2 separate regions of the Homo sapiens genome follow, and region 1 is linked to region 2. The links come from fine-mapping of genetic effects on gene expression. Tissue or cell type: whole blood. Region 2 holds a variant in brackets; the other region holds the start of a gene. All regions are shown on one strand. Distances are from middle to middle.

Region 1 (2,758 bases), 52 kb before region 2:
ACAACTATAGAAGCAGCAACTAGAGGGAACAAGATGTCCCTCTTAGACATCCTAAGATGATCCTATGTGGCCCCCATGTTTGGCTGGTTTTCATAACAAAGTACTCTATTCCTGAAAGAGGGTTTATATACCATGAATGACAAAACTGAGGAGAATTCTCATTAATCATTTTGAAGAATTTCTAAGTTAGCAACCAGAATCTATTATTTTTTAAAAAGATGTATTTCTTATCTGATCAAATGACCCATCTATTTTATTTGAAGATGTTGGAAAAAAAAACCTTTTTTCTCTTCAACTTGTGTCCTGTCTTTGGGGGCCTAAAAATTAACTGGCACTAGACAGATAAATAGGAGAAAAGACAAAGTTTATTTACACATGCATGCAGGAGCTTCCAGTAACAGAAAACTCAAAAGTAAAGGTTTATATACCTCAACTTAACAAAAAGGAAAGTTTTAGGGCTTCAGTAGGAGAGTTTGGAAGTTTTGATTGGGTTGTTTTGTGTTTTTGAGACAAAGTCTCAGCGCTATCCCCCAGGCTGGAGTGCAGTGGCACAATCCCGGCTCGTTGCAGCCTCCTCCCGTGCTCAAGCAATCCTCCCACCTCAGGCTCCCGAGTAGCTGGGACTGCGGCTGCACACCACCATGCCCGGGTTGTTTTTATTATTATTATTATTATTATTATTATTATTATTATTATTATTATTGAAGAGAGCTCACTATGTTGCCCAGGCTAGTCTTGAACTCCTGGGTTCAAGCAATCCTCCCACTGCCTCGGCTTCCTAAAGCGCTGGGATTACGGGCTGAGCCACAGCACCCAGCCCATTGGGTTTTTTGGTGCTAATGGTAATGGGACAGTCTGTCTTCCTGGCAGCTGAATACTCCGAGAGGCTTTTAATGGCACCATGTTTTCGGGAGGTTTTGCTTTAGTCAGATAAGGGAAGTTTCATTAAGATTTCTTTCTACATCTTCTGTAGCTCAATGTTTTCACTTAAAAACAATCTTTATGTCAACTCTGGGGGTCAAAGTACGTCCCCACGGTGGAAAAGTTCTTGTCCCAATCTCTACGGGGAGGAACCGATCTGAAATCTTGGGATATGTCTTAGCATGTCCACCGTGATTGAGGTACAAGCAGTGGTTCAGGGCACCGAGTTAGCGATTCTAGGTAAGCAAGACCATGTCAAGAAGTGGTTTGTCCAAAAGTTCGTGAGAAGGCAGAAACGAGGGAGAGTGGCAATCGTTGTTCTTTAAGAGGGCACGGTGGTGGAGGAGAAACTTGCACATCGGGGCCTGGGGTACCACGATCTGGGGCCTGGGGACGCGATTTGGGGAAACTCGGTGGCATCTGGGCTCCGCTTGATGCCAGTGCGTGTTCGTGCAAGTTACTTCCTCAAGTTCAGGGTGAGGATAATAATATCTACCATGTGGAGTTGCTGGGAAGATTCACTACCAACAGAGGCAGAGCGCACGGCTCGCAGGAAGCGCTCGCTAGGGTCTGCTCTTTCCGGGAATGGGTGGGGTGCGCACTCCTCAACAGGGCTCTCAGGACTTGCGTCACACGCCTCAGTCGGCTGGCTTATAAAACACCGGCCAGAGCCCCAAGATCGCTTTTAGTTTCTCTTCTTTCTAAAGAAGGCTCGCGGAGCCCGGCTGGAGAACCTCACCCTCGCCGAGCCTAGAACCGAGAGGGGGCCACCCCAGGCGGTCACCAGCAGATTTGCCCGCGCGTTCTCTTTCTTTCCACCCAGTTGCCCTTGCGGCCGGCTGTAAACCTGCCACTAGGACCCGGTCGGTGAGATCTAGCCTCTTGACCTGAGAGCCGAGAGTGGATCGCTGGGCTGGGCTAACGGCGACGGAGAGCGCGCCCTCGCTGACTCCGGGCGCGCCCAGCAGTAGCACCGCCCGCGCCCGCCCCTGGACACTTGTAAGTTTCGATTTCCGATTTCCGCGGAACCGAGTCCCGCGCCGCGGCAGAGCCAGCACAGCCAGCGCGCCATGGCGGACCCGGAGGTGTGCTGCTTCATCACCAAAATCCTGTGCGCCCACGGGGGCCGCATGGCCCTGGACGCGCTGCTCCAGGAGATCGCGCTGTCTGAGCCGCAGCTCTGTGAGGTGCTGCAGGTGGCCGGGCCCGACCGCTTTGTGGTGTTGGAGACCGGCGGCGAGGCCGGGATCACCCGATCGGTGGTGGCCACCACTCGAGCCCGGGTCTGCCGTCGCAAGTACTGCCAGAGACCCTGCGATAACCTGCATCTCTGCAAACTCAACTTGCTGGGCCGGTGCAACTATTCGCAGTCCGAGCGGTGAGTGCACCCGGAGGGAGGGGCGCTGTCCGCAGCCGTGGTCGGGGTGGACTGTCCAGGCGGGCAATGTTCTGGGAGGGGCACGGCTTCGCCGGGACCCCGCACCTGACAGCCTCCGCCTCCAGCCACTCCCTTCTCTGCTCCCCTCTGGGAGCCTCTGCAGGGCCCGCGCTTCTACCTTTGCAGTTCCCTTCCTTCCGGCACCTCCAGACATTTTCTCGAGAATGGCTAAAATGCTAGTGCCTGGAGGAGACCAGGCTCAACCTCCACCCCTTTCCCCGCCCGCCCGCACGAATCAGAAGAATAAAGTGCTCTGGAGCCAGCCAGGGCCTAGAGAAGCGGTAGGCAGGTTTGGGAAGGAAGGAAAGAGCCTCCCGTCTTTGGTATCTTGAGTCTTTCCCTCCCTACTACCTCCTTCCCTAGACGTGGCGGAGCCAGTAACCCAGCCGCCCTGGGCCC
Region 2 (2,758 bases):
GTTGAAGTGATTCTCCTGCCTCAGCCTCCTGAGTAGCTGGGACTACAGGCACATGGCACTATGCTCAGCTAATTTTTGTATTTTTAATAGAGACAGGGTTTCACCGTGAGGGCCAGGCTGGTCTCGAACTCTTGACCTCAGGTGATCCACCTGCCTCAGCCTCCCAAAGTGCTGGGATGACAGGCATGAGCCACTGCACTTGGCCCCTTCCTGTAGTTTAAATATTCAAATTAATAAAGTAAAAAGAATATTTCAGGGTTTAGGGAAGAGAGGAGTAAATCTCATGCCCTCACGGGAGCTTACATTCTGGTGGATGAGGCAATAACTATTTCAGTTCCTGACAAATGTTAGGTGGGGGAAAAAGGCAGAGTAGGAGGATGGGGAGGGGCTGTTCACATTCAGCCAATGAATGAGATCATCAGAGCTGCTTTCCATTCGTTACAATCGTTACAATCGTTCTGGCAGGATGTCTTCACAAAAGTGTGTTGGAACTGTCTTTCCTTAAAGCAACAAAACTGCATTTTTTTTTTTAAAGTTCCGGTAATTTTGATTTTTTAACAATTCAGATACTCCCAGTTAGTCTCAACTAGTGAGACCATGCTTTATGGCCCTTCCAGACAGCAGGAACTGTGGAAAGCATAGTAAACCTTGACGCCAAGCTGGATGGTTCTTTCTGTGCACATGTATTTCTAGGGGAAAAAATTGCTTTGTGGCATTTCCAGATAGCTCCTGTAGTCAGCCATTGTCGATCTCAAGAACTTCCATATGTCAGAGTTGCTTCGTGCTTTTCCATTTGCTCTTCCCCTCTCCAGGAATACTCCTTCCCGTCATTCACATGAATACAGCACCCCTCACGATTTAGCTGGAATGCCACTTTCCCATACTATAACATTCCTTGTGATTCTCCTCCAATTCTCCAACACTCGAGATTCCCTTATAGTACTTACCCACTTCTACCTTGTAATACAGTTACTTATGTAAATGTCTCTAGCACAACCTTCCCTCCTCCTCCCTTCCCCCTCCCTCCCCACCAACCTCAATTATCAGCTCCTCAGAGCTCTTGAAATATTTTGGTGTTTTTTTGTGGGGGGGGGGGGGGTTGGGGGTTAGGTTGCTGGGGTGCAGTGGCGCAATCACAGCTCACTGCAGCCTCAACCTCTCGGACTCGGGTGATCCTCCCACTGCAGTCACCCAAGTAACTAGGACTATGGGTGCACACCGCTACACCTGACTAATTTTTTTATTTTTTAATAGAGACACGGTTTCTCCAGGTTGCCCAGGCTGTCTTGGAATAGTTTGTATAATGCATGGCACATAGTGATAATAAACAGCCACATGAATAAAAAAAATAAATTAGAAAAACATGTTAGTGGGGGAGGGTGGGGGGTGGGTCATGCAGAGAACCAAATTTAATCCTGCTCTCACTAGCCCAAGGAGACACACTTGCTGTAGGATAGAATAAGGGCTGGGGTACTATCCTGAACTACAGTGGG[A/G]CATAGAAGTGAACTACGGCACACGTCACTGTTCATGGGCATCTTACAACATATTCATTCAGTCTATCCCATGTTATACAAATCCAGAATGGAAACCTGACCTTAAAATAGAGATAAACTGGGGCCAATCTTTCTCATTCTAATGAGTCACCTTCTTCTTTAAAGAGTTTTTTCCTTCAAGCATTTATTTTTTAAAATGTAATTGTTGGCCGGGCGCGGTGGCTCACGTCTGTAATCCCAGCACTGTGGGAGGCTGAGGTGGGCGGATCACGAGGTCAGGAGATCGAGACCATCCTGGCTAACACGGTGAAACCCCATCTCTACTAAAAATAACAAAAAAATTAGCCGGGCGTGGTGGCGGGCGCCTGTAGTCCCAGCTACTCGGGAGGCTGAGGCAGGAGAATGGCGTGAACCCGGGAGGCGGAGCTTGCAGTGAGCCGAGATCGCGCCACTGCACTCCAGCCTGGGCAACAGAGGGAGACTCCGTCTCAAAAAAAAAAAAAAAAAAAAAAAATGTAATTGTTTTGATCATGGAAAATTTCAAACATAAAGTACAAAGAATTGATAATAAACCCCTGAGTACCTATCATCCAACTTAAACACTGTCAATATTTTACTATCTTTGTAACGTATTTGTAGTAGTGGTAACAATATTGTTACTACCATCACCTCTAAATTTTTTTTTTCTTTGAGAAAGAGTCTCACTCTGCATGCAGGTTAGAGTGCAGTGGTGTGATCATGGCTCACTGCAGCCTCAAACACCTGGATTCATGTGATTCTCCTGCCTTAGCCTCCTGAGTAGCTGCAACTACAGCCGTGCACCACCACACCTGGATAATTTAAAAAAAATGTTTCTAGAGATGGGGAGGGGGATCCCACTGTGTTGCTCAGGCAGGTCTTAAACTCCAGAGCTCAAGCAATCCTCCTGCTTCGGCCTCCCAAAGTGCTGGGATTATAGGGATGAGCCACCACACCTGGCCTAACTTTTTTTCTTTTGCTGGAATATTTTAATGTAAATCCAATACATGTTATCATTTCCCTGTATATATATTAGGTGTCTTCCTAACAGGTAAGAGGTTTTAAAAAACATAATACAATATCATTAACCTATGTAACAAAGTTAATGATAATTCCTTAATATCATCTAATACCCAGTTCACGTTTTATGTTTTCCCATTGTCTTAAACAATGACTATTTAGAGTTGAGGTATTGCAAATCAGTATCTAAGCAGGGTCTGTACATTGTGTTTGGTTGATTTGTGTCA

Evidence for each region. PIP is the estimated chance that this variant, and not a neighbour inherited with it, causes the effect.
Region 1: it holds the start of ZC3HAV1, and the variant in region 2 is fine-mapped to the expression of ZC3HAV1 in whole blood (INTERVAL, PIP above 0.99).

What each region holds. Positions count from the first base shown.
Region 1 is chr7:139,108,565-139,111,322 of GRCh38, reverse strand. ZC3HAV1 (zinc finger CCCH-type containing, antiviral 1) reads left to right here and starts at 1,603. Exons shown (of 13, transcript NM_020119.4): 1 at 1,603-2,299. The coding sequence starts at 1,992. RefSeq lists enhancers at 1,495-1,654, 1,447-1,950, 1,895-1,994, 2,575-2,704.
Region 2 is chr7:139,056,782-139,059,539 of GRCh38, reverse strand. All of the region lies in intron 9 of ZC3HAV1 (zinc finger CCCH-type containing, antiviral 1), which reads left to right. Among named protein-coding and RNA genes, the nearest start is that of MIR10399, 14 kb to the right of the region's middle. The variant A/G (reference allele first, on the strand shown) is at 1,494.